4 linked regions of the Homo sapiens genome follow. The protein of the gene in region 1 interacts with the protein of each later gene in a biochemical or structural test. Each region holds a gene or a part of one and is shown in the gene's direction. Other genes may lie near its edges.

Evidence for each region.
Region 2: of the proteins of SUPT5H (region 1) and CSNK2A1, one has a biochemical effect on the other in vitro, tested with the Homo sapiens proteins (2 studies listed by BioGRID and IntAct).
Region 3: the proteins of SUPT5H (region 1) and CCNH form a complex in vitro, tested with the Homo sapiens proteins (one study listed by BioGRID).
Region 4: the proteins of SUPT5H (region 1) and CCNT1 form a complex in vitro, tested with the Homo sapiens proteins (2 studies listed by BioGRID, with this or other methods).

The regions. Positions count from the first base shown.
Region 1 is NC_000019.10:39,440,765-39,448,603, forward strand, and holds the start of SUPT5H (transcription elongation factor SPT5), read left to right. Parts: upstream 1-4,817; 5' UTR 4,818-4,873; intron 4,874-4,879; exon of another isoform or gene 4,880-5,039; 5' UTR 5,040-5,126; coding exon 5,127-5,201; intron 5,202-7,839. UniProt on the Homo sapiens protein: Component of the DRB sensitivity-inducing factor complex (DSIF complex), which regulates mRNA processing and transcription elongation by RNA polymerase II.
Region 2 is NC_000020.11:533,781-540,804, reverse strand, and holds part of CSNK2A1 (casein kinase II subunit alpha), read left to right. Parts: intron 1-7,024. UniProt on the Homo sapiens protein: Catalytic subunit of a constitutively active serine/threonine-protein kinase complex that phosphorylates a large number of substrates containing acidic residues C-terminal to the phosphorylated serine or threonine.
Region 3 is NC_000005.10:87,395,929-87,402,952, reverse strand, and holds part of CCNH (cyclin-H), read left to right. Parts: intron 1-1,180; coding exon 1,181-1,251; intron 1,252-3,447; coding exon 3,448-3,559; exon of another isoform or gene 3,560-3,560; intron 3,561-7,024. UniProt on the Homo sapiens protein: Regulates CDK7, the catalytic subunit of the CDK-activating kinase (CAK) enzymatic complex. CAK activates the cyclin-associated kinases CDK1, CDK2, CDK4 and CDK6 by threonine phosphorylation.
Region 4 is NC_000012.12:48,692,706-48,699,729, reverse strand, and holds part of CCNT1 (cyclin-T1), read left to right. Parts: intron 1-1,546; coding exon 1,547-1,592; intron 1,593-3,491; exon of another isoform or gene 3,492-3,567; coding exon 3,568-3,731; intron 3,732-3,900; coding exon 3,901-3,971; intron 3,972-5,293; coding exon 5,294-6,697; 3' UTR 6,698-7,024. UniProt on the Homo sapiens protein: Regulatory subunit of the cyclin-dependent kinase pair (CDK9/cyclin-T1) complex, also called positive transcription elongation factor B (P-TEFb), which facilitates the transition from abortive to productive elongation by phosphorylating the CTD (C-terminal domain) of the large subunit of RNA polymerase II (RNA Pol II).

The DNA.
Region 1 (7,839 bases):
AAGCAATTCTTCTGCCTCAGCCTCCCGAGTAGCTGGGACTACAGGCATGTGCCACCATGCCCAGCTAATTTTTGTATTTTTAGTAGAGACAGGGTTTCACCATGTTGGCCAGGATGTTCTCGATCTCTTGACCTCGTGATCCACCTGCCTCAACCTCCCAAAGTGCTGGGATTACAGGCGTGAGCCACCGTGCCCGACCTTTTTTTTTTTTTTTTTTTTTTTGTAGATATGGGGTGTCGCTGTGTTGCCCAGGCTGGTTTTGGACACCTGGGCTCAAGTGATCTTCCTGCCTTGGCCTCTCAAAGAGCTGGGATTACAGGCATGAGCCACTGTGCCCAGCTGAGTGTCTTTTTCTAGCTTGCACATAAGTACAGCATGGGATAGTGTCAGGCCTTACGGTTGGGATTATCCAGAGCCCTATTTACAGATGAGGAAACTGAGGCCCAGAGAACTGAAGGGGTTTGTTCCAGGACACAGATAAGAAATCTTGGGAGTGGGGACTTGGACTCATGCCCTTACCCATAGATACCAGGTCACTTTGTCCCTACTGTGTGTCCTGCTGAGACTCTAGGCTGCTCCAGGTTGGAGCTGTCTGTGATTGGGTTTGAGGAGGGACCATCTATGGGAACTGCTGTGTTCCAGCTACAGTACCTGCTGGATCTCCTGGGGTCCCGGCTGTGGGTGGCCAGCCAGGGCCCTTGCCTGTCCTGTGAAGGACATCCCCAGAGACCTGTCCCCCTCTTGGAGTTACTACAGGGAGCTTGTGCTTGGCACCCTACCACAGCCTGAGCTTTGGAGGACATGGGCTCCCAGGTACACCCAGAGAGGCTGGGTAGAGAGAGGGAGGGAATAGTCTTCAGCTCCAACTGCCAAACCCTAAGCCTTTTCTTCCCTCTAGGCCAGAGGACCCCACCTGGAGCCCTAGTAGCCAAGGGGAAGAGTTAAGAAGGAGGAAAGTAAGGTGCGATCTGAAGTCTCTGACCTCTTGGGCAGGGAGTTGGATAAATTGCCCCACCTGCCCCCATTCTCACCCTCCTTTAGATACTCTTCTCTCTTCTTCCAGGAAGGGACAGAGAAGTGCACAGGTATTCTCTAACCTCATCCCTATACCTTGAGAACAGGGAGGGTCCTGTGGTTCACATCCCTACATCCCTGGCTACAAAAAATTACCACTTGAAGAACTTTCTTTTCTTTTCTTTTCTGTTTTTGAGGCAGAGTCTCACTCTGTTGCCCAGGCTAGAGTGCAGTGGCATGGTCTCAGCTCGCTGCAACCTCCACCTCCTGGGTTCAAGTAATTCTCCTGCCTCAGCCTCCTGAGTAACTGGGATTACAGGCACGCGCCACTACACCTGACTAATTTTTGTATTTTTAGTAGAGATGGGGTTTCACAATGTTGGTCACGCTGGTCTCGAACGCCTGACCTTGTGATCTGCCCACCTCAGCCTCCCAAACTGCTGGGATTACAGGCGTGAGCCACCGTGCCCAGCCCACCACTTGGAGAACTTTCAAGTAATACTGATGGCCAGACCCCAGCCCAGATAATTTGATAATTGGTCTCTGGTGAAGCCTGAGCATCTATATTATTTTTATTATTATTTAGAGACAGGGTTTCACTATGCTGCACAGGCTGTAACTTGGCATCTGCCCATATATTTTTTTGAGACAGGGTCTCACTCTGTCACCCAGGCTGGAGTGCAGTGGCATGATCAAAACTCATTGCAGGCTCGATCTTTCAGGCTCAAGTGACTCTCCCACCTCAGTCCCCCAAGTAGCTAGCGCTATAGGCGCATGCCACCACACTCAGCTAATTTTTGTATTTTTTGTAGAGATGGGGTTACCCTTTATTGCCCAGGCTAATCTTGAACTCCTGGCTCAAGCGATACTCCCCCCTTGGCCTCCCAAAGTGCTGGGATTATAGGCATGAGCCACCACACCTGACATTTTTTTTTTTTTTTTGAGACAGAGTCTCCCTTTGTCACCCAGGCTGGAGTGCACCGGCTGGTGGACTGGATGGCCACATTTCCATCACCCCAAAGCATTCCTTCTCTCTCTTCCCAGTCAATTTCCACCTCCCTCTCCAGCCCCAGACATCCACTAATCTGCATTGTCTGTATAGGTTGGTTTTGCTTGCTCTGGAGTTTCATATGAATGGAATCATGCTGGACATCTCCTGATGTCTGGCTTCTTTCACTCAGCATAATGTTTTGGAGATTCAGTCATGGGTGTATTGGTAGTTGTTACTATTCTGTTGCATGGATGGATGTACCAAAATTTGTTTTTCTTTTGAGACGAGTCTCACTCTGTTGCCCAGGCTGGAGTGCAGTGGTGCGATCTCTGCTCACTGCAACCTTCACCTCCCTGGTTCAAGTGATTCTCCTGCCTCAGCCTCCCAAGTAGCTGGGATTACAGGCGTGCGCCACCACACCTGGCTATTTTTTTTTTTTTTTTTTTTGTATTTTTAGTAGAGATGGGGTTTCACCATATTGGCCAGGCTGGTCTTGAACTCCTGACTTCGTGATCCGCCTGCCTTGGCCTTCCAAAGTGCTGGGATTACAGGCGTGAGTCACTGCGCCCGGCCCTAATTTTTGTGTTTCCAGTTTAGGGCTATTATGCAACTCTTTCTTTCTAAAATATTCTCAAGTATTCTGATGTGCTACCAGAGTTGAGTTCAGAACCACGGATCCACCAAGGAAGAAACTTCCATGGCTGGGGAAATGACTGTGCCCTCTTTTTTCTGCAGGGAATGGCTTTCTGCAGCAGTGTCTGTAGCGATTTAATATGTAGAATCCTATTTTCTTGTTGTTTTTTTTTTTGAGACGGAGTCTTGCTCTTTTGTCACAGCAACCTCCACCTCTCAAGTTCAAGAGATTCTCCTGCCACAGCCTCCCGAGTAGCTGGGATTACGGGTGTGCGCCACTACGCCACCTGGCTAATTTTTGTATTTTTTAGTAGAGACAGGGTTTTACCATGTTGGCCAGGCTGGTCTTGAACTCCTGACCTCAGGTGATCCGCCTGCCTTGGCCTCCCAAAGTGCTGGGATTACAGGCGTGAGCCACCGCGCCCGGTGGAGAATCCTTTCTTTTTTTGAGATGGAGTCTAGCTCTGTTGCCCAGGCTGGAGTGCAGTAGCACGATCTCGGCTCACTGCAAGCTCGGCCTCCCGGGTTCACGCCATTCTCCTGCCTCAGCCTTACGTGTAGCTGGGACTACAGGCGCCCGCCACCACGCCCAGCTAATTTTTTTTTGTATTTTTAGTAGAGATGGGGTTTCACCGTGTTAGCCAGGATGGTCTCGGTCTCCTGACCTCGTGATCCACCCGCCTCGGCCTCCCAAAGTGCTGGGATTACAGACGTGAGCCACCGCGCCCGGCCCAGGTGTGTCATACTTATGTGAGAAATTTTACCAATGTGTCCTGAGGCTTCTTTTTTTTTTTTTTTTTTTTGAGACTGAGTCTCACTCTCGCCCAGGCTGGAGTGCAGTGGCGCGATCTCGGCTCACTGCAAGCTCCGCCTCCTGGGTTCACGCCATTCTCCTGCCTCAGCCTCCCGAGTAGCTAGAATCACAGGCACATGCCACCACGCCCGGCTAATTTTTTTGTATTTTTAGTAGAGACGGGGTTTCACCATGTTGGCCAGACTGGTTTCGAACTCCTGACCTCAGGCAATCTGCCCGCCCCGGCCTCCCAATGTGTTGGGATTACAGGCATGAGCCACCGCGACTGACATAGACTTCTGATTTTTAAAATTTCCCCTATCAGGTTAATTTTTCAATTTTTAAAAATTTAAGTTTTAATTTTTTTTTTTTTTTTTTTTTAGAGACAGGGTCTCTATTACCCAGTCTGGAGTGCAGTGGTGCAATCATAGCTCACTGAAGCCTCAACATGGGTTCAAGTGATCCTCCCACCTTAGCCTTTGGAGTAGCAGGGACCACAGGCACACGCCACCACACCACATTAAAAAAAACACAAAAATTGGATACATGGGGTCTCAATTTGTTGCCCATGCTAGTCTCAAATACCTGGCCTCAGGTGATCCTCCCGCCTCAGCCTCCCAAAGCGCTGGGATTACAGGCGAAGGTTCATTTTTCATCTCTCCATTACACCTGTCCACTCTGCCATCACTCGTCAGCCGTCATTACTAATAGATAAATTCGCCTTTAAATGAACTTAGGAAGCCTGGAAAGAAAAATAGGGACTTGGGCCGGGCGCGGCAGGTTATGCCTGTGATCTCAGCACTTTGGCAGGACGAGGCCGGAGGATGGCTTTTTAGTTTGAGTTAGAGGAGTTTGAGACCAGGCCGGGCAACAGCCCGACTCTACCAAAAAAAAAAAAAAAGTACAAAAAGAAAGAAAAAGAAGGAAAAACCAGGGCTTCACGGTCACTCAGACTTGGCGAGGAGGCTTGGGTCTGCCGCTTTCCACTGAGTTTTTCTGAGCTTCAGCGTTCTCTCCAAAACGGGGATACGGATCTCCTGGGGATGCTTTAGAGGGCCTAGGAGATAAAGCCTTGTTTCTTTTATAATTTGCTATTCGCTGATTTCGCCGCCTCCTCGCAGCTTGGCCTACCGCGCTAGTGTTCCGGACTAACGAACAAACGGCTCACTAAATTCAAACATGAGTTTCAGCCTGGTCGCCGAGCCGGCGGGTAGAAAAAACCTTTCCCCTCCTAACCCTCCGCAGATGTCGGCCCCGCACTCCGCCCAGGCCAGCCCTGCCTCTCTCAAGATGGCGACCTGGAAGTGCGTCGCCCGTGCCAGCCCCGGAAATCTCGTGTTAGGCGAGGTCAACGGGTAGGTTCTCGCGAGAGGACCCGTCAGCCCCAGTCAGGCGTCGTGCGAACAGCAGCTGGTACCGAAGGCGGAGGTGGAGCCCGAGAGGTAAGTGCGTGTGCAGAGGTGGCAGTTCCGGGCGCCGGGGAGGTGTAGAGAACAGATTCGGAAACTGGGGAGGTCTAGCATGTGGCGTAGGAGGGGGTCCTCACTCCGCTTCGCGATTGCCAAAACGAGCCTGCCGGAAGCGCCCTAAGGGGTTTTCTTCTCCCAGGGAACCAGCGGGGAAACTGAGGCTCGGGGTGGAGCGCAGGATTGTGGGACGCGCCAAGGCTGCTGTCTTTCCCAGCAGCAGCGGAAGATGTCGGACAGCGAGGACAGCAACTTTTCCGAGGAGGAGGACAGCGAGCGCAGCAGTGACGGCGAGGAGGCCGAGGTCTGTGGCTGGGGCGCTGGGGGAGACATTGCGTCTGGGGACAGGACTCCGGGCAGAAAGGCCCCTGTGGGAGGCTCGAGGGGTTCACAGCGGGCTCTGGCTTCTGGGAACTCCCAGATTGTCTCAAGAGATAGAGAATTAGGCAAGTCGAAGTCAAGCAAAGGGACAGGTTCTGGAGGCCAGAAATGGGTCAGGTCCAGTGAGATAACAGGTGATGTTTTGAAAGTTTACTCTGTGTGCATATAGTAAGCACTTAGCATTAGTTTTTTTTTTTAGTTATGTCTAGTCATTCCATAACTATATTTGTAGTGCCTACTATGTACCAGGCGCAATTCTTTGCTCTTAGGGTACACCAGTAAACAAAAAGATTTTAAAAATGTCTGCCTTCGGGAATGTAAATAAATATAGCCAAGGAATAAACTATATAGTAAGCTGGAAGGTACTCTGGAGAAAAGAACAGAAAAGGGGAATGGAGAGTCCTGGTTGCTCTTGAAATAGGGTCATCAGCATGAGTCTGAGGGGTGACATTTGAGCAAAAACTTGTTGGAGGTGAGGGAGTGAGTCGTGGTTAGCTGGAAGTGTAGTGTTCCAGTGAGGGGGACCAGCAGGTGCAGAGATGGGAGTGTGTCCGCCGTGTTCAGGGATTAACGAGGATTTGAGAGGCCAAGCTGGGAGGATCACTTGAGCCCAGAAGTTTGAGAGCAATCTCGGTAACACAACGGGACCCTGTCTCTACAAAAATATAAAAACCATTGGCTGAGGCCGGGCTTGGTGGCTCACACCTGTAATCTCAGCACTGTGGGAGGCCAAGACAGTGGATCACCTGAGGTCAGGAGTTCAAGACCAGCCTGGTCAACATGGTGAAACACCATTTCTACTAAAAATACAAAAAAATTAGCTTGGCATGGTGGCGCCCACCTGTAATCCCAGCTACTCGGGAGGCTGAAGCTGAGAATCGCTTGAACCAGGGAGGTGGAGACTGTGGTGAGCTGAGATCGCGCCACTGCACTGCAGCCTGGGCGACGAGCAAGACTCCGTCTTATAAAAATATTAGCTGAGCTTGGTGGCACGCTTCTGTAGTCCCAGCTACTTGGGAGGCTGAGGTGGGAAGATTGCTTGAGCCAGAAGGTGAAGGTCTAGTGAGCTGTGATGGTGCCACTGCACTGCAGCCTGGGTGACAGAGTGAGACTTTGTCTCCCCACCACCCCCTAAAAAAAGGGGGTCCACTTTGGTTGGATCAGAGTGAGTGCAACAAAGAATTTATGAGAGCCAAGTCATATAGGATCTTGAAGGCTGTGGTAAGGAATTTGGTCTTAACTGAGTAAAATGAAACCACGAAAAAGTTTGAGCAAGTGGAAGATGTGATCTAATGTTTTGAAAGGATCACTCTGGCTTTGGGTCTGTTGTACCTCTGTTCCAGGAACCAAAAAACCAACATTTCCTGGGGCATTTCTGATTTCAAATGTTCTTTTATTTGCCATTATCTTTTTTTTTTTTTTTTTTGAGACAGCATCTCACTAGGTTGCACAGGTTGGAGTGCAGTGGCATGATCTCAGCCCACTGCAACCTCAGCCTCCCGAGTAGCTGGGATTACAGGCATGCACCACCACATCAGGCTAATTTCTGTATTTTTAGTAGAGACGGGGTTTCACTGTGTTGGCCAGGCTGGTCTTGAACTCCTGACCTCAGGTGATCCACCCTCCTTGGCCTCCCAAAGTACTGGGATTACAGGCGTGAGCCACTGCACCAAGCCCATTATCCACCTTTTAAACTTATTTTTGTTTTATTTGTTTGTTGAACAAATCAGTGTTTGCATCTACTACTGTGTTCCACTTACTTCTCAGGTGTCTGGTAGGAAATCTTTGCATTTTTGGAGTTGACATTTAGTAGGTAGCAATCACAAACCAGTAAACAGATGACAGGGTGATTATAGATCCCTTGTTTGATGCACAGAAACTTAAATTGGCTGTTAAATTAGTTGCCAATGCTTGTGAGGGAGATTTAACATAAAGATTAAGATTTCTTTTTCTGGGGAAATGGAAGGAGCTGGCACCCTGGGACACAGAGTTGTTCTGCAGAGCAGCCGTTTGCTTGATGAGTGGCTGCCCTACTTATACAGCTGGGAATTTTCTCCAGTTCCCAGGATATGTTAGTTGCCATTTGTCCTCTTGCTTGCCTTGTGGCAGAGTGAAGAAAAGGAAAAGATTTCATGTGGCTGTGTTCTGGAAAACGTTTGGTAGATGGAGAGTGCTGTGTGTTTCGGGTGACTTGTCCCAGTCACTTATGTTGCCTGCTTATCCTCTGTGGACATTTGATTGCCAATCTTTATTGTGACCTTTGGAGAGTGCCTGGCTTCCAGGCTTGCAGTGAAGAGTTGGAGAAATTGGGATGCTGTGGTGGGAGAGTGACAGGGAGGGCCTTTTCTCTAAGCTGTAGCACTGGATTCTTGGTCTCTGATTCATGGCTTGGAGACACTGCTTGGTGGTTAAAGTCAGGTGGAAATGAGACCAAGATCCCCAGTTCCATTTCCTGTCTGGGACATTCTCGTTTGCACTGTTACTAGTCTCACTTCCCCAACACTACACCATACTTGACCCCCCACCCCCGCCGCTGGCTCCTCTTCAGTTACCAGGTGAGG
Region 2 (7,024 bases), on another chromosome or scaffold:
TTTTAGCTACTACATTTGTGGTAATTTGTTATGGCAGCAGTAGAACACTAGTATAGATTTTGGTACCAGGAGTGGGGTACTATTACCTAAAAATGAAAGTGGCAGTAGATAAAGGTTAGAATTGTTTTGAGGGGCATGATAGAAAAGGCCTGGAACACAGGAGGATCGCTTGAGCCCAGGAAGTCAAGGCTGCAGTGAGCGGTAATGGCACCACTGCACTCCAGCCTGGGTGGCAGAGTGAGACCCTGTCAAAAAAGAAAAGGCCTAGGACATACTTTTAGTAGCAATATGGATGTTAATGACTCTGCTAGTGAGGGCCCAGACAGAAGTGAGGTCTTTCTTATTGGAAACTGGCAGAAAGGGGATCCTTGTTACATAGTAGCAACTAAGTTTAGCAGAATTGTATCCTATGGTTATATGGAAAGCCAAATTTGCAAGTGATGAACTTGTATATTTAGCTGAGATTTCCAAGCAAAGTATTAAATGTGCAGCCTGGTTTATTTGTGAATGTGAACTTTAATGGAGTGGACCCATGTGGAATACTTCCACAGCCCATTAGGTTCTTGAGAATTTTATGCCAACATAAACAGTTCTAGTTTGGATTGAAAGAGACAGAAAGTAATAGGGCTGTTGGACCCCCCAAATTCTACTGATAGGAAGCAGGCTGATAAAACTACTCACATGTGAATGTGTTGCTTTTCATAAAAGAATCAGGGTGACTCAGACGGAGATAGGAGAGCCCAGAGGGGTGGAGCTAAAAGCTGGAGAGGATTTTTCCCAGGCTTTGAAATGGAATGGAGATTCCCTAGATTTTGAAACTGCTTTGGACCGGAGGCTCTGTTTTCTTTTACATTTTGCCCATTTGAACTGGAATGTCTAACTGTTATTCTCTACATGTCTCACAGTGGTATGTTGGGAGTAGAGAACTTGTTTCTTTAGGAATTGTGCCCCAGGAATTGGACTTACTGTTTTGTCCCCAGAACCTCATCCACACCTGAATAGATGAATGAGATTTGGGACTTCTGAAATGATAAGCTTTAGATGGGAAACCTTTGGGACCTTGGGATGGGATGGATGTATTTTGCATTTGAGAGAGAGATGAATCCTTGGAAACCAGAAGGCAGACTGCGGTAAGCAGAATGGCTCCCCTACGATTTCCATACTATAAACCCTGGAACATGAATATGTTAAGTAGATTTAATTAAAGTTAAGGATCTTAGGTAGATTATCTTGGATTTTCTGGGTGGGTTTATTCTACTCACATAAGCACTTAAAAGCAGAGAACTTTTTCTGGCTGGTGTCAGAGATGAGGCAGAAGGGGAAGTCAAATTTGAAGCATGAGAAGGACTCAGCCTGCCGTTACTGGAGGGGACCAGATTGAAAGTGTGAGACGGGGAATGCAGGCAGCCTCTAGTAGGAAAGGCCAGTCCCAGCTGACAACCAGCAAGGAAGTGGGAACTCAGTCCTACAGCTGCAAGGAACTAAATTCAGCCAATAGCTTGAATGAATGTGGAAGCAAATTTTCCCCAGAGTTTCCAGCAGGGAACCCACCCACTGGATACCCTCATTTAGCCCTTGTGAGACCCAGTCAAGCCCACTGACTTCTGTAAGATAATCCATTTGTGTTGTTTTGTTTGTGATAATTTGTTATGACACAATGGAAAACAAATACAGGGGTTTTGCTGGTTTTATTTTAGAGTCTTTGGGATATCATTTTCTAGAGAACAAAGATAGCAAAGATTCTATAAAACAATTTAGTCCTGGAAGACTCCACGGAATAATGGTGTTGAGTGGAACCTGTGCCTGTTTCTTGATGTTTGAATATTATTATTGTCCTTAGATGCAGTTTGAAGGGGCTTGATGGTCAGCTTAGTGAGATGTAGTTTCTGAAGGTCTAGGACATTGGTAGGATTTCTGTAAATAGGTGGTTCTTCCATATCTTGGATAAATGACATAATTTCTTCATTAGTTTTTATTGGCTTAATAATGGGTTTCTATGACAGCCTTTTAAGGCTTATTTCATATTTTTTTAGAGGAGATGGAAATGGGTGATACATTTTTGTGAATTTGTAACTGTCTCTCTGTTCTCTCACACCTCCCACCCCACCCCAGCTCAGCTCAAACTTGTAAGATCTTTTCTCCCTGTCATTGTCTGTTGAGGTTGTTGAGTTTAAGAGTCAGATCTGGGAATCATCACTACAGAATGGAGTTTCTAGCTTTTAAGAAAAGTCTTTTCTTTTTGTTCTTTAAAGTATCCTATTAATTGGATTCATAAAATATGGACTAACTAAACTTTAGTCAGAGGATGAAGGAAGTGAGACCATTTCTTTTGAGTTATTACCTGAATAGAAAGATGATTACAAGATTAGCATTTCAGGGTATGAAAGACTTTAGAGGTTATGTTTGACTTTGGGTTTAGAGTAAGGGAAATTGGGCCACATGAATGTTAACTGGTCTACTAAGATATCTCAGCCCTAGAGCTAGTCTAGAATCCTGGTCCAGCCAATAGAGAATCATGACTTTTGAACTATGTTCCCTGAGTACCCTTTTCTACTGTTGGCCGGGCATGGTGGCTCACACCTGTAATCCCAGTTCTTTGAGAGGCCGAGGTGGGCAGATGACTTGAGGTCAGGACAAGACCAGCCTGGCCAACATGGTAAAACCCCATCTCTACTAAAATTAGCTGAGTGTGGAGGTGCGTGCCTGTGGTCCCAGCTACTCAGGAGGCTGAGAATCACTTGAACCTGGGAGACGGAGGTTGGTTGCAGTGAGTCAAGATCACGCCACTGCACTCCAGCCTGGGGGACAGAGCAAGACTCCGTCTCAAAAAAAAAAAAAAAAGATGTTAACTGTCTATAATATTCAACTATATGACAACTTTTGCATAAATATTACAGTATGATTTGTACAAGTTCAGAAACTGAAAACCAATATGATTTGCCATTGAATTAGGTAAGGGCTTAGTATTTTAAGGTAATAAATAATGTGATACTTGATTTGAAATGAGAAACTGGGTTTTGATCTGTCACAATTCGTGGGTAACCTGGATAAGGTTTGTTTCATGAGAGTATTAATGTGTTCTTATACCTGAATTTCTTTGAACTTCTGAAATGGATAATTTCGAAAGTAGCATGTCATTTAGTTTATAGAGAAATCTAGGCCAGCCAGCTTTTCAAATGAAGAAATTCCTCTAGGATTATTAAGGAAAAGTAGCTGCTGTCATTGTAACAAAGGATGTATTTTCATTGGGTTATAGACAATTGGTAGTTTTCTTACGTTGAGTGCTCCCAGATGTACTTTTTTTTTTTCACATGTAGAAGTCAAAGATTGAGTCTTTTAAAAAGTTTAAGGTGAAAGCATTCACAGTATCACAAGATACTGCTAAGAGTGGCATTTTAACTGGTTTCTACAAATTCTGTCTTTCAGTCTTAGACATTAAAAAACCCTACGTAGCAACAGTTGCTATGGTCGGCAAGCTTCTTTACATTCGTGGTGATAATGTTTTCTTGCATAGAAAATATTGTGTTATCTGAGGTGACAGTTTTAGGGTTAAATACCAAGGTACAAGTTAGATTAATGTTTTATAATTTTTTATGTGTGACATCTTAAATGCCCTTATATTGGCTGCTCTTTTCTTTTTATACTTTCTTGTCTTGTGGGTTTTTCTGACAGGTTTTTATTAGCTGAAACATTTTAATTTGCTTGGAAAAGTGAACATTTGAAATTTTCCTGAAGTTATGACTAATGCTTTAATGGGCATTTCTCAGTTTAGCTATCTCATCAATGTTCTATAAATTTTAAGAAAGCTACCCTGTTTAAAATGAATGGGTAAATTATTTTCCAAAAAATGGTATCATGTCATATCCAGAAATACGAGATGGTCATTTTGGGTTATTGAATTCATAACCACTCAGAAGATGTTGTTCATTCAGCAGATCCTGAGCGCCTGCCACGTTTCTGGCAGGCGTTGTGCTAAAGATCTCCAAACTGTCACTGCCCTCCAAGCTCAAAATTGAGTGACGTTTTCTGATAACAGGCATATCATACCACAACTTAGTAGATTTTGGAGGTGTTTTCTTATAATAACTCCTATTTGCTTTGTATCTTAGGTGTAGTTTTTGAAACAGCTGCAGAAATGAGAAGGGGGTAGAATAGAGAATTAATTGAGATTGCGGGTAGGGAGGGGAAGGCAATAGGTTAGTGGGAAAGAACTCCCACTTTGAGTTTGGGGAAGTTTACTTAACCTCTTCAAGTCTGGGAGTTCTTGTCTCTACAGTTCGGATAACAACTACCTTGGGCAACTTACTAACTTTTGGTTTCTTCACCTGTAACATGGGAATTAGTAGTACCTACCTCAGGATTTTTGTGAGGATTAATAACTAGAGTACTAGCTAGTATTATCTCAGGATTATTGAGGATTAAAGGAGAAAATTGATAAAATGTCTGGCATGTGGGTGCCCAACATTAGTTCTTTCCCTTCCCTTTCGGAGAAAAGAATGTGTTTATTGCCAGTGCTGTCATTCTTCATTCTTTATTTTCATTTTCTGCTGCCAAGAGTTCTTATTTTTTTAATGAGACTTTTGACCTGTACTTCCTTGTTTCTAATGTAGCCTGTTGGGTGGGTGAGGTATGAATTGCTGCCTAGGGGTGGATCAGTATGTAAGTCACGCCCAGTGTAGATTACCTCAATTACTCGTGTACAGTGTCTATTACCTAGTCCTGGTGAGTCTAGGATTCTTTTGCTTCTAGATAGAGAAGGTAATATTCCCATCTCAGACTCAGGAAAAGGTCTACCTTTGCTCACCTATAGACTTGTAAATATAGATCAGAGGTCTTACTCCCAGTGGTTCTCTGATCACAGTTTGGGAATTGCTTGAATATTGTGTGTTAGGGATATGTTTGGAGAAGGCCAGCTCCCTGCATTAACATCTTCTCTATGTCTTGCTCTCTCAGGTAATCCACTAACTTGCTTTCTTGTTTGCTTTGTATTATTAAGTGATAAACTGTAGGCAGACCAGGAACTTGTATTTATCGGCACTTTAAAACTTTTTTTTTTTTTTTTTTTGAGATGGAGTCTTGCTCTGTCGCCCAAGCTGGAGTGCAGTGGCGCAATCTCTGCCTCCTGGGTTCAAGTGATTCTCCTCTCTCAGCCTCCTAAGTAACTGGGATTACAGGTGCATGCCACCCCACCGGGCTAATTTTTGTATTTTTAGTAGAGGCGGGGTGTCGCCATGTTGGCCACGCTGGCCTCAAACTCCTGACCTCAGGTGATCCACCCGCCTCAGCCTCCCAAAGTGCTGGGGTTACAGGCGTGAGCCACCGCGCCCGGCCAGTGTTTTGTGTATTTATGATTATATAGAATGGCTACAAATGGCCATCTGCTTTGGAGTTGTCTACCTTTTGTGAAAAAATGAAAATAGACTATTGCCTAGCAATTAAGTATTCAAGCATGTATTTTGCCACATAATTTATTGTGAGAAGGTTATCAATGTCAAATAAAATGCTTTCATTATTTGCTTCTATTTGTCTGTCTTCCTGACCAGTTCATTTTTCCTTCCAGTGAAGCCATCTTGAGCTAGGGTTTTCTTTGTGGGTAGTTGTTAATTTTTTTTGTAGAGACAAGGTCTCACCATGTTGCCCAGGCTGGTCTCAAACTCCTGGGCTCAAGCAGTCCTCTTAACTCAGCCTCCCAAAGTGCTGAGATTACACTCATGAGCCACCACACTGGTCCGAAGAAATTTTTTTTTTTTTTTTTTTTTTTTTTTTTTTTGGGAGATAGCATCTCACTCTGTTGCCAGGCTGGAGTGCAGTGGCACGACCTTGGCTCACTGCAACCTCCACCTCCCGGGTTCAAGCAATTCTCCTGCCTCAGCCTCCCAAGTAGCTGGGACTACAGGCGCACGCTGCCACGCCTGGCTTTTTTTTTTTTTTGTATTTTAGTAGAGATGGGGTTTCACTGTGTTTCCCAGGCTGGTCTCTAACACCTGAGCTCAGGCAATCCACCCATCTCGGCCTCCCAAAGTGCTGGGATTGCAGGTGTGAGCCACTGCACCCAGCCTGGTCTGAAGAATTTTTAAACACCACAGCTAAGGACCTGAGCATTCATCTGCAGCTACCTATATGCTCTTGTTACATACAGTTGTTATACTAGGGGGTTTTTCACAGCCATCTTTTATGACTGTTTTTGGAAAACATCACATTGACCTTCATACATATTCAAAACTTTAGGCTTTGTTGCATCTGGAGTCCAACACTGAGGCCCACAGATGTCACCAGCCCCCAGCCAGCAAGGTGGGGCATGTCTCAGTTGTCTTCCTTTCTCCCTTCAGTAGCCACACAGAAAAGCTTTTCCATCATTTAAAATCTGATTTTTATACAATTGTGGCCTGGTGGCCAGCCCATTCAGGTAAAAGAATAATGAAGAAACCTGATTATTGAAACTCAGTATCCCACCCCTACCTTGCCTCCAAATTTAAAGCAGTTCATTTTATTATAGTGTTTTGGATAGGCTGTTAATAAATCAGTTTGGAGAACTAAGGAAATAGTATTAAATTTAGTGAAAAGAACCTATTTAGGCTTTGGATCCTAAACAGATCTGGCTTCCACCACTTAGTAATCCTGTTGTTTTTGGCAGATTATTTAACCTCTGAATCTGTTTATTTCTAAAATCAGAATATGCATCTGATACTGTGCCTGGTTTGTAAGAGGCATTCAAATGGTAACAGTAGTTATTACATTCATAAGTGCTGAATTTTTCTTTAGATTACTGTATATCCCAAATGAAGTTTTCCATCTTTTGGTTCCAGAGGGTAATAGCCAGTGGAGTAAAGTTTCACATTGTGACTTTATTTTGCTTATATGGCGTGGTAAAAAGGTGTATAGATGATGACTATATTGTAAGAGACAGTACTGGAATTCCGATTTCTCTTAGGTGTTTGGGGTAGAACTATTAATCCAAATCAAACTGCTTGGATTTTCTTCTAATACCTCCCTTCATTGGGAGACCTCACACTGTTGCTATGTC
Region 3 (7,024 bases), on another chromosome or scaffold:
TATTATAAGTTCAAATTCAAAATTGAGGTTAAGAGTTGCTAACTTCACAGAGATAATGAGTCTAGTCAGCCAACTCTTAGCACCAAACCTATGACCCTTATGCTTAAGAAATCAAAAGGAAATGAAGAGTAAAAATAAAGGAAGATGACAAAAATGGGAGGAATTTTAGGTAGGAGAGGGAAAGGAAAAAACTAGTTATTTTGAATTACTGGTAGCCAGAAATGGATTAGTTGTCAGGAGATTTCCTGATTTTCAGATCCAAAATTTATTCCCACAGTAGATGATGATGATGTAATATCAAACAGTTACCAAACTTTATAATAAAATTTAAATAAATCTGGATAAAGACAGCAACAAGAGTTCTTAAAGCATTGCTTTCTATTTTTCTAACTATTACCCCCAAGAGAAAAATAAGTTTTTTGCATTTGTGTTTGAAAAACTATTTAACATTTTGAGAATCTGTTCATTTCGCCTTTTATCAATCATAGGTCAAGTTCAGGTATGTAAAACTTCAGAGTAACTGAAATTTTAATATAGAAATTATATTTTCATACTGTCAGTGGCTCTGAGAAAAACAGGTAATTTGGGTTTTATATCACATTGATAAGTAAGTTTAACACCTTTGATTTGGACTTGATGCAAATAAGATGCAATAGATTTATAAAGCATTAGGTGGTAGTCTTGTTGGTTTGAATGTCTGTTACTCCACAGAAGTGCAACTATAGATAAAATGGCTTTCATATTAAGGGAATAGAGAATCCTTACTAGTGCCAGATTCCAGTTTTGCTGCTTCCTAGCTTTATTACTTTGGGCAAGTTACAAGATCATGACTTGTTCATCCCTGTAACTCAGATTCCTCATCTGTAAAATAAGGTTAGCCTTATTGGGCTTCTATATTAAAAGATATAAATGTTATAAGTACTGGCTATTACTGTTGCTTTCATACTATTTTCCCTCTGAAAGGTTGTACCTGAATGTCACTAAACTTAAAGGAACAATAAACATCTTTTAATGTAAGTGGTAATAAATCCTTAAAATATAGGAGTTACAGATTATACATTCATAAATTTAAAAATTTTTTAATTGCCTTTGATGAGGATGGAGGAAAATAATTTATGATGTCATGTTTTCTCAATGTGCTGTATGTTTTCAATAGATTTTTTTTTCTTTTCTTTACTAGTTATTTATCAGAGAGTCTGATGCTGAAAGAGAACAGAACTTGCCTGTCACAGTTACTAGATATAATGAAAAGTAAGTAAAAGAGAACACTTTACAAAATGTTTCTTCCAATACAAAGCTCCTTTCTAAATAAATCTCTTGGTGTTTAACTAGAAATATAACAGATTTTTGTTTAGATTTCTTTTCATTGAATTACTGTATTATGGAAGCATGAAAGACACATTGGTCTAGAACAAATAGAAGGTATATAGAAGGAAGTAGTGTTCATTTATATAGAACTTATGCAAAGAGTGAAAATAGAGTCAGATTTAGAAAGGATTTAGAGATTGACAACAGGATCCTTTTAAAGAATAAAGAAACATACTAGGCACTGAAAAAGATGTAATGGGAAATAACTTAAGGATAATGTTTAAATTTGGAACTTCTATTTTGTAGATAAATTATTTTTTTAAGAGAAAGGTAGAAGGAGATTTGACACACTCAGAGAAGGCACTGTTAAGACAGCAGAGAAAGAATTAAAGATGCTTGCCTTGAAAATTGGAGTGATGTGGCTGCAAGCCAAAGGAAGCTGGCAGCCATCGGAAGCTGGAACAGGCAAGGAATGGATTCATCCCTGGAGCCTCCAGAGAGAGTATGGCCCTTCTAGCACCTTAATTTTGGCACAGTGAAACATTTCAGACTTTTGGGCTCCAGAACTATGAGAGAATACACTTCCGTTGTTTTAAGCCACCACTTTTGTGATAATTTTAATAGCAATGTCAGGAAACTAATACAGCCCTGCGTAATCAAGACTTATCCAGCCCAAAAAGTCATTAGTGCTGGTGTTGAGAAACCCTGTCATTAGTGCCGGTGTTGAGAGTTGAGTAGAATCTCTACTTTACTTATTGGCTGGATTAGCCAGCATTCTCCATTCTTGACCGTGGCACACTTGGTCATGGCTGCTAAGCTACTCTTTGGGGTTAAAAGTCGATCATGTTTGTTTCCAAACCTTCTTGTGTAAATTGTTCTTGTTAATTAAATGTGTATTGTAATTAAATATTAAACCAGTAGAATATAAGATTGAAATCTTGATTTTCGATGACAGTAAATGGGCATACATTTTATATATTTTGTGTTTTAAAATTTAAGATGCTTCAGGGCATCTATGTATCATTTCCTGATTCTCTGCTCGAAGTGATCCTGAGGGCTTCCTTTGAGAATGATGGCTGTGATTTATGAATTATAAACTGTAGGTCTTTAGTTATACCACTAGGGGGTACACTTTAAAAGCTAATTGTGATTTGACTGTAGCTGTTAGGATCATAGAATTTAGTAGGTAAAGGTCTTATTCCACTGTACTCATTTCATAGCTTAGTTTTATTACTGATTTCTTCTCAATACCTTTATTTTGCTCCACTTGTTTTAAAATGAAATAAAAACAGCTCTTCATAAAACACTCAGAAGTTTAATGCTACTAAGATATTTGTAATTTTTGGAACATAGATACTGTCCTAAGGGTGTTGAGTTACAAGTATTAATTCAGTTAAAAATACTGCTTTGTTTGCATTATGAAATAGGTCAGTAGTGTAGTCATTTGGATCACATGGCTGGCTAATAGTAATAATAAGCCCATTGGATCTCTCATCATTCCCCTAATCTTGAAATTTGTATTCTTTGGTTTATTATAGTTGAATAACAAGATCAGCTAGAGGATGTTTTTGCAATTATAAAGTTACTGATACAGTAGTTTGCTTTTAACCTAAAGTGGACATTTTTGTATAGGGTTTGCGTTTTGTTAAAGCAAAGGATTATTAACAAATTTTTACTGAGCATCCTCCCTTTATTGCATGTTGTGTAATAACAGTTTCCTTTGAAAACAGGAAGTATATGCTTGGCCCACTGTCTATGGAATAGAATACTACGAAGATGGTTGGTGATAGAGAACAAAACATGTTCACTAAATCATTTAGGGATTTTTTTTTTAAGTCTTAAAACTGAACAAGAAGTGACCCCAGTAGGATTTGCCAAAAATTAATGCTAGATTATAGTGTGCTTTATGCTGTATATGATATGGGCTAAACAGCAGAGAGCCATAATTACTTGAACTAAACATACAGTGCTTATTGGATTTTAATGTAGAATGAAATGCAGAATGATGCAAATCCTGAGAATAACCATGTCATTTGAAGAGTGTTGTTTCCTATGACAAAATGGAAAAGTAACCAGCTCCCTTACTATGAGAAGGAGGTTTGCTTATTCAGTTTAAATTCTTTTTTTGTATCCACATAGGCATGAGAAACTTAGTAAAGAAGTATGAACCACCCAGATCTGAAGAAGTTGCTGTTCTGAAACAGAAGTTGGAGCGATGTCATTCTGCTGAGCTTGCACTTAACGTAATCACGTAAGTTAATGTGACAGTGTTAATCAATAGACATAACTGTTATCCAGTCCAGCTGGTTCGTAAATCATTTTATTGGTGTTTGCTCATTAGAGGAAAGCTGACTGATCCATAAAATCAGATTTTCTTTATTGAATGGACATTTCTAATGAGATTAAGGTAATAGTTCGGCATTCACTGTGCAGTTCTGATCCTGCTGTGACTCATATGTTCTTTGGCTTGCAGGCCCTGTCCTGTTCTGTTACTTCTCATGGGATTTCAGGGGTCAGGGTCTTCCTAAGGAATCCTTTTACCTTTTCCTGTCCTTTTAATCTTTTGTCTCTTTGAAGTTGTGATATCTGGTCTGAGGAACAAATATGCTCTTCCAGACTTCTGTTAGCTAGAGTAGAGAAAGTTGGCATACTTCTTTTTTTTTTTTTTCTTTGAGATGGAGTCTCGCTCTATTGCCCAGACTGGAGTGCAGTGGCGCGATCTCAGCTCACTGCAAGCTCTGCCTTCCAGGTTCAGGTCATTCTCCTGCCTCAGCCTCCTGAGTAGCTGGGACTACAGGCGCCCTCCACCACGCCCAGCTAATTTTTTGTATTTTTAGTAGAGACGGGGTTTCATCGTGTTAGCCAGGATGGTCTCAATCTCCTGACCTCATGATCCGCCCACCTTGGCCTCCCGGCATACTTCTTTCAGTGACAAACTTTATAGTGACCACAAAGCCAATAGGAAAAGAGGCCATGTAATTTCTTCTTGTGGCTAGCCATAAGAACACCTTTAATGTCTCTTAATTGATTTGTAAGCTGAATGTGAAAATCACCATAAAATTGGCAATTTGTGCTTTGCAAATTGAAAGATCCACTGAAACTTTCTTTTTTAGGTGTTTAAGCAGTTGGGAATTTGGACAGGTACTAGGATTAATGAAACTGCCATTTTCTATTTCCTGTGGGATGCATTTTGTTACTTAAAGTTATACCTTATTTGTTAAAATTTAATGGGAGTTATCTGTGGCATCTTATATTTAAGATGTATTTGAGGTATTATTTCTGTAATTGGTGAATATGTGCTGCTGGATAACTATGAAAAGCCAGAACAGCAATTCCAAGGCCTTTATGTCAAATACACATGACTCAAATTCCTTACCTATACAGTTGTAGTTGGGGAATATCTACGGACTTAGGAAGTGTGCAGAATATGAGGTTGTTTTATTATAGTTATAGGTATAACGACAAAGCATGTTTTAGCATAGAACTTGAAATTGGTGGATTTCATTCACTCCTCGGTTTCAGTGGTAACAGGAATTTTTCAGAGTGGTTACAGAGAAGTAATGTTGACTTTAATGAATAAAAGTATTGCAGCACTGATTATGTCCTTTTTGCATTGATTTTGAAATGGGATTAGACCAGGGGTTGGCAAACTGTTACCTACCAGGCATATCCAGCCCATTAGCGTTTTTAGAACACAGTTTCTTGGAATGTAGCACACCTATTCGTTTATATATCACCTATGGCTATTTTCATGATACAGCAGAAAAGTTAGGTAGTTGCAACAGAAACTGGTTATAGGGCCTGCAAGGCCGAAAATATTTACTGTCTCTTTAAAGAAAAAGTTTATCCACCCCTGGATTAGACCACTGAACTACTAATCCTACCCTTTCTAGCTAAGTAACTGAATGGACCATAATCCAAAATTCTTAACTGCCATAGCTTACATTGTATTCCAGATTGCCATCTGCCTTGTACTGGGCCAAATTCTGAATATCTATGAGTACTTGAGGGGTGCTTCTCAAACTGCGAAGGACTTTTTTAAAAAAAAATCACTAGATGTATACTTTTGTAAAATTCAATAAAAAATGAATTACTAGAAAAGTGAAGACAAAAACATAAGCTCAAGTTTTATTAGATTCAGCAGTCATAAAATTATTATATCAAATTGCTATTAAAAATTTCTAGGGCCGGGCACAGTGGCTCATGCCTGTAATCTCAGCAGTTTGGGAGGCTAAGGCGGGCGGATCACCTGAGGTCGGGAGTTCGAGACCAGCCTGGCCAACATGGCGAAACCCCGTCTCTACTAAAAATACAATAATCAGCTGGACGTGGTGGTGGGTGCCTGTAATCCCAGCTACTTGTAAGACTGAGGCAGGGAGAACTGCTTGAACCCTGGAGGGGTCACAGTGAGCCAAGATCACGCCATTGCACTCCAGCCTGGGCAACAGAGCAAGACTCTGTCTCAAAAAAAAAAACAAAAAAAAAATTATGAAACACAATTCCTGTACTTAACTCACTGCAAACTGGAAACTGTTCATGGACCAGCTCTGGTACTTGCTACCATGAGTAGTGCTACTTTAGGACTAAATATTTGTTTTCCTTGATCTTCAAAATTATTTTACCTTTAGTTTTCATGACACAAAAACTGTTTTGTCATTGTCAGTCAATACAAGTGAAACCAAAGTTCCCTTTGATCAAAACCCAAATCTGTCATGACCTCAGAAGTTACTTAGCAGTTGTTTACCTTTGCCAGCCTTTTCTCTGCACGTATATCCATATATTTATGAAATAAGCAGCGTTTTTTTCTTCTTTGCATTTTTCATACATATTGTACAATGGGTGATTATCAATGCTTAGCTTTTGCTAGTCTGGGTGAAAAAGTATCACATTGGTATTTTAATTTGCATTTTCTTGATTATGGGACATTGAACTTTCCATACTTAACAGTCACTTATATTTCATCTGTATTGCTTATTTATCCCCTTTGCCCAATTTTCTGGCTTTTTTGTTTGTTTGTTTGTTTTTGAGATGGAGTCTTGCTGTGTCACCCAGGCTTGAGTGCAGTGGCGTGATCTCACTGCAACCTCTGCCTCCCGGGTTCAAGCAGTTCTCCTGCCTCAGCCTTCCAAGTAGCTGGGACGACAGGTGCATGCCAACATGCCCAGCTAATTTTTTTTTGTATTTTTAGTAGAGACGGGATTTTACCGTGTTAGCCAAGGATGGTCTCAAGCTCCTGACGTCGTGATCCGCCCGCCTCAGCCTCCCAAAGTGCTGGGATTACAGGCGTGAGCCACTGCACCTGGCCACATTTTTGTGGTTTGTAGTGCTTTATAGATTCTATATACAGTCATCCTTCAGTATCCATGGGGGATTGGTTTCAGGACTTTCTGCTCATAACCACAATCCACAGATGCCCTAATACAAAATGGCGTATTTGCATATAACCTATACACATCCTCCCATATACTTTAAATCATCTCTAGATTACTTATAATACCTAAATACAATGTAAATGTTATGTAAATAGTTATACTGTATTCTTGAGGGAATAATAAGAAAAAATTCTGTACATGTTCAGTACAGATAGAATTTTTTTCCTTATTTTCAATCCGCAGTTGGTTTAGTCCACAGATGTGGAACCCACAGGATACAGAAGGCTGATTGTACTTATTTATATATGATATATTATTTATATATGATATATTCTATTGTTTTT
Region 4 (7,024 bases), on another chromosome or scaffold:
AGAGGTTGTGGTTTGTGGTGGACAATACATAATAGTTCTGCTTTGGCTAAATTTAAAGGCCTACTTGGCTTAAATCAAAATGAGTTGTTCTGACTTGATGTTTTTCTGTTGGGTTCTTACAAGTAATATTTTTAGATGATCTCTAGTTAAAGAGAACTAACCTCTTGAGAATGTTTGTCAAAGTTGGGCAGTTTGTGAAGTTATTTAACAGAAATTTTATGAAAGTTGTGAGGAGTGGGTGATCTTATTTTAATTCTGGGGTTGATTAAAGGCCACCTAGAGGATCATACAGAATTTATTTGGACTTTCCATGATATACAATCCCTTGGCAGAACTTTTCTTTTTAATTCTAATTTAACAATATTAGGTATAATTGAATGAAACTCTCTTATTTAGTTTAGTATCAAGAATATCTGAACACTATTGTGCCTTTAAGTGCCTTTTATGATTTTTAGGCCAAACTGATAATTGGTCTTATTTTACATTTTACTAATATGTGTTTCCTGTGAAAATTCCCAAATTTTCCTGAGTTCTTTATATTTGAAAGTATTAAAATGTTATATTGCACAAGGATAAGACTAGAGATGGGTGTATGTTAATATTGAGAAGACTATGTCCTGAGGAAGATAAAAATTTGCTTTGTCACCCAGAACAGTTTGTTTTGGAAGAAGTTAAATTTTTTCATTGTAATATATTACATTATTTGATGATTTGGGGATTAATTAATTAAATCTTAATTAGGGCTACTTAATTAAAAACTTTTTTTTTTTTTTGAGACGGAGTTTTGCTCTTGTTGCCCAGGGTGGAGTGCAGTAGCACGATCTCAGCTCACCACAACCTCCGCCTCCCGGGTTCAAGCGATTCTCCTGCCTCAGTCTTCCGAGTAGCTGGGATTACAGGCATGCGCCACCACCCCAGCTAATTTTTTATTTTTAGTAGAGACGGGGTTTCTCCATGTTGGTCAGGCTGGTCTTGAACTCTGGACCTCAGGTGATCCGCCCACCTCGGCGTCCCAAAGTGCTGGGATTACAGGCGTGAGCCACCGTGCCCAGCCTTAATTAAAAACTTTCTTAACAGCAAAAGTCACTTTTCCCAAATATGTCAAAGTCTTCTAGATTCTGATCTTGCTTCTAGATCATCTTAGTTCATCCTGTAGTTTAGTGATTCTCAGTGAATCCTTACATCAGAATCTCTGGGTTACTTGTTAAAAAATGCTTGCACCCTTCTCCAAACATTTAATTAAATTTTAGGGAGCAGGTCCAAGAATTGCATTTAAACAAGTACCTCAGATATGTGGTGTGCAGAATAAAGCTTGAGTACCTAGATCTGGAAGCAGCATAGTTATTAATGTTAAAATTAAAAATCATTGATCTGTCTACTTTGGCAGAATGTAAACGTCAGGTTTACAGGGACCATGTGTGTCTCATTTGCCACTATATTCACAGTACCTTGCAAATATTAAATGCTTACTAAATATTTGTTGAGAATGAATGGAACTAATAACTTTTTTCCTCCCCCACCCCTGACTTTTTTTTTTTTTCTTTAGCAAGCAAGGACTTAGCACAGACTTCTTACTTCATGGCAACCAACAGGTTTATATTTTAATTTTTTTTTCTCTTCGATTTTTGGTATAGGACTTTACTTGAGTTTGATACAGTGTGCTATAGATAATTCTCTGGTGAATGTTGATTTTTCTGCACAGTTTTCATGTTGTACTTTAAATTTCCATGGTACTTTTTAATTTTCTAAGGTTATGTAATTATTTAGTACTGATTTTTTTGATAACCTACTCAGTTCTGCATGATAGTGACTGAAAATCTAATTTGGAGTATTCTGCAATAATTATATGTGTATATATATATATATATATATATTTTTTTTTTTTTTTTTAAATTATTATTATTATTTTTTGAGACAGAGTCTTGCTCTGTTGCCCAGGCTGGAGTGCAGTGGCACAATATCAGCTCACTGCAAGCTCCACCTTCCAGGTTTACACCATTCTCCTGCCTCAGCCTCCCGAGTAGCTAGGACTACAGGTACCCGCCACCACGCCCAGCTAATTTTTGTGTTTTTAGTAGAGATGGGGTTTTACCTTGTTAACCAGGATGGTCTCGATCTCCTGACCTCGTGATCTGCCCACCTCAGCCTCCCAAAGTGCTGGGATTACAGGCATATATATATATATATATATATATTTTTTTTTTTTTAAGACAGAGTCTCACTCTGTCTACCAGGCTGGACTGAAGTGGTGCGATCTTGGCTCACTGCAACCTCTGCCTCCCGGGTTCAAGTGATTCTCCGGCCTCAGCCTCTTCACTAAGCTGGGATTATAGACTGGCGCCACCATGCCCCGCTAATTTTTTTGTATTTTCAGTAGAGATGGGGTTTCGCTATGTTGACTAGGCTGGTCTCAAACTCCTGGCCTCAAGTGATCCGCCTGCCTTGGCTTCCCAAAGTGCTGGGATTACAGGTGTAAACCACTGTGCCTGGCCAATAATTATATTTTAAAATATTCCTTTTTCTTCCCCCTCTATCAATCAATGGGCACTTATGGATGTTAAGAGTTTCAGTCTTTTTCCTTCTTCCCTTTTTAAAAAAAGTAAATGAGACTGGGCACAGTGGCTCATACCTGTAATCCCAGGCTGAGGCTGGTGGATCACTTGAGGCTAGGAGTTCGAGACCAACCTGGCCAACATGGTGAAACCACATCTTTACTAAAAAATACGAAAATTGGCAGGGCAAGGTGGCACATGCATGTAGTACCAGCTACTCGGGAGGCTGAGGCACGAGAATTGCTTGAACCCAGGAGGCAGAGGGTGCTGTGAGCCGAGATTGCCCCACTGCACTGCAGCCTGGGTGACAGAGAGAGAGACTCTGTCTAAAAAAAGTAAATGATTAGTACATAACTTGTATTACCAAATGACTTGCCCAACATTGTTAGTTAATGGAAACCAATGATATCCCTAGTAACTGTCAGGGCTAAGAAGTTCATTTTTATAGCCTGTTACGAAAAAGTTTTGAAATAAACCAACATATTTATACTTGAGAGAGTAGTTGTCTGTTTATTATTTTAAATAGACCAGAACTATGATTGGTGAGAGACAAATTATTTTTAAGATATTTCCTTAAGTTTTTGATTTACGGATTACACAGACCAAAAAGCTTACAATTTTCCTTAGGATCTGAGCTTAGTCTCAGGATAATAGGTAATAAATATTGACTTCTAGGCTTGAATACTGGCCCAGAAGTCAATGTTTTAAAGAACTTGAATTCCCAGCCTTTTTCCTTTTTTCCTTTTTTTTTTTTTTGGCTCTGGTCAATGTGTAGATTAAGTGATGTGTAATTCAAGAGTTTTTAAAATGTTGTTACCTGAACAGGTGGGTTAATAGGAAATTATATTGAGTGCTAGATCAGAGCATTGCATATTTCTTACCCTTCTTACTCTCCTGTCTATTTTTAAGCCTTTTTTTTTTTTTTTTTTTTTTTTTTTAAATAATGGAGAGTTTTAGCTTTGGGCTGAGAATTGAGAGCTCATGACACTCTCTGTTTTCTTCCCTCTGATGTCAGCCTGCATTTGACCACATTTAGCCTGCAGTACACACCTCCTGTGGTGGCCTGTGTCTGCATTCACCTGGCTTGCAAGTGGTCCAATTGGGAGATCCCAGTCTCAACTGACGGGAAGCACTGGTGGGAGTATGTTGACGCCACTGTGACCTTGGAACTTTTAGATGGTAAGTTTTAGAGTAAGGGACCTTGAAAAGCACTTGCTGTTGATCTGTCACATAGCTGGCCAAAGGTGACTTGATTCAGATGAAAATAGTTAGTTAGTAGTTCAGGTTATTCTTGTTTCATTACTTCTGTTTCTCTCAGTCTTTCTTGAATGTTCTGTTTTACTTGTAGAACTGACACATGAGTTTCTACAGATTTTGGAGAAAACTCCCAACAGGCTCAAACGCATTTGGAATTGGAGGGTAAGAATCATTACTGTCAGCTTGTGGAACAAAATCAATTTCTTTTGACTGCACCAGTGAATATACCAGTATTGAATATGTACCCTAGGTTTGGAATTGCCCTTTTTATAGTTACACAGTAATCATGACTTCTACTTCATACCTTGGATACTGTTGTAAAAGTCAGTGTCTCTATGGGATAGCAGGATTTGCTTTTCATTGTGTAACTCCTGTGATATGATCATTTGAGCAGTAACACTGGTTCAGTATTTTCTGTGTGGAAACTGGTAGGGAAAAAACATGGCTTCTCGGAGTTAGAGTATTGGCTTCTGGTAGAGGCAAGATAGAGAATTACAAGGTTAGAGCCGGTATCACAGTTTTGTGTTTGACATTACCTACTTTTAAAATGGATTTTAGAATTTTGTTTTTATATAGGCTGTAGTCTGAAGTTGTATTTCAAATACTTGTCAAAGCCTTATTCAGGAATAATGGAATCATTCCTTTTTTTTCTGTCAGATATAAAACTTGTTTTAAAATGTTTCCATTGTTTTCTCCTAAATCCAGACAGAAAAAGTTAATTTCATTCTCCTGAGTTGAGTGAGTGGCAGAGAGTGAGTTTGCCTCTTAGAAGCCTGAGATTAGAAGTAGGCTTGAGAGGCCGGGCATGGTGGCTCATGCCTGTAGTCCCAGCACTTTGGGAGGCCAAGGCAGGCGGATCAACTGAGGTCAGGAGTTCGAGACCAGCCTGGCCAACATGGTGAAACCTCGTCTCTACTAAAAATACAAAAATTAGCCAGGCATGGTGATGCACACCTGTAGTTCCAGCTACTTGGGAGGCTGAGACAGGAGAATCGCTTGAACTCGGGACGTTAGGTTGCAGTGAGCCGAGATTGTGCCACTGCACTCCAGCCTGGATGACAAAGTGAGACTCTGTCTCAAACAAACAAACAAACAAAAAACAACAGTAACAACAAAAAAGAAGTAGGCTTGAGAGCACATCTTTTACTTTAGCATAAAACCTCACCAAAATTTCTAGAACTCAGTTATGGACTAACTATAATCATAAGCGAAGGCATGGATGTTCATGTATGAATTTTAGATAAGCATAGATTCTTTGTTGTTATTATTGCTTTGTAACGTTTGGATAGATTGCTGTGACTCTTAATTGAAGGTTTTAAAATCTTCTCTTGATGGTAATATTTATTGGATTACATGTTAGGATAGCCTCCTGCCTGTGGCCTATCCAGAACTTCCAGTGTTGCTGCAAGTACAATCTACTCATCTCAGTGTTTTTTTATTTAGTAAATTACCTAAGTAAAGAGATGCTATTTGCTTCATTGCAGGCATGCGAGGCTGCCAAGAAAACAAAAGCAGATGACCGAGGAACAGATGAAAAGACTTCAGAGCAGACAATCCTCAATATGATTTCCCAGAGCTCTTCAGACACAACCATTGCAGGTTTAATGAGCATGTCAACTTCTACCACAAGTGCAGTGCCTTCCCTGCCAGTCTCCGAAGAGTCATCCAGCAACTTAACCAGTGTGGAGATGTTGCCGGGCAAGCGTTGGCTGTCCTCCCAACCTTCTTTCAAACTAGAACCTACTCAGGGTCATCGGACTAGTGAGAATTTAGCACTTACAGGAGTTGATCATTCCTTACCACAGGATGGTTCAAATGCATTTATTTCCCAGAAGCAGAATAGTAAGAGTGTGCCATCAGCTAAAGTGTCACTGAAAGAATACCGCGCGAAGCATGCAGAAGAATTGGCTGCCCAGAAGAGGCAACTGGAGAACATGGAAGCCAATGTGAAGTCACAATATGCATATGCTGCCCAGAATCTCCTTTCTCATCATGATAGCCATTCTTCAGTCATTCTAAAAATGCCCATAGAGGGTTCAGAAAACCCCGAGCGGCCTTTTCTGGAAAAGGCTGACAAAACAGCTCTCAAAATGAGAATCCCAGTGGCAGGTGGAGATAAAGCTGCGTCTTCAAAACCAGAGGAGATAAAAATGCGCATAAAAGTCCATGCTGCAGCTGATAAGCACAATTCTGTAGAGGACAGTGTTACAAAGAGCCGAGAGCACAAAGAAAAGCACAAGACTCACCCATCTAATCATCATCATCATCATAATCACCACTCACACAAGCACTCTCATTCCCAACTTCCAGTTGGTACTGGGAACAAACGTCCTGGTGATCCAAAACATAGTAGCCAGACAAGCAACTTAGCACATAAAACCTATAGCTTGTCTAGTTCTTTTTCCTCTTCCAGTTCTACTCGTAAAAGGGGACCCTCTGAAGAGACTGGAGGGGCTGTGTTTGATCATCCAGCCAAGATTGCCAAGAGTACTAAATCCTCTTCCCTAAATTTCTCCTTCCCTTCACTTCCTACAATGGGTCAGATGCCTGGGCATAGCTCAGACACAAGTGGCCTTTCCTTTTCACAGCCCAGCTGTAAAACTCGTGTCCCTCATTCGAAACTGGATAAAGGGCCCACTGGGGCCAATGGTCACAACACGACCCAGACAATAGACTATCAAGACACTGTGAATATGCTTCACTCCCTGCTCAGTGCCCAGGGTGTTCAGCCCACTCAGCCCACTGCATTTGAATTTGTTCGTCCTTATAGTGACTATCTGAATCCTCGGTCTGGTGGAATCTCCTCGAGATCTGGCAATACAGACAAACCCCGGCCACCACCTCTGCCATCAGAACCTCCTCCACCACTTCCACCCCTTCCTAAGTAAAAAAAGAAAAAGAAGAGGAGAAAAAAACTTCTTTAAAAAAACACATAATTTTTCTTTTTTTTTTTTGGACTAAGAAAATTACTTATGAAATATGTCATCCTTGGACTAGGGAATAAATTGATATTGAGACATAGTTAGGAGGGTGGTAGAAGGCCTTGGCTATATATCTGCTGTCTCATGCATTTAACTATTTTCTTACAGTTTTTACTGGTATTAGAGAGGTGTTGAAGCTGTGAAGGATTAAGGACACATTCTGAATTCTTGGCCTCTCCACCATCTAATTAGGTTGATTGGAGTTGATATCTTCCCTCTTCTTGCCAGAGCTGA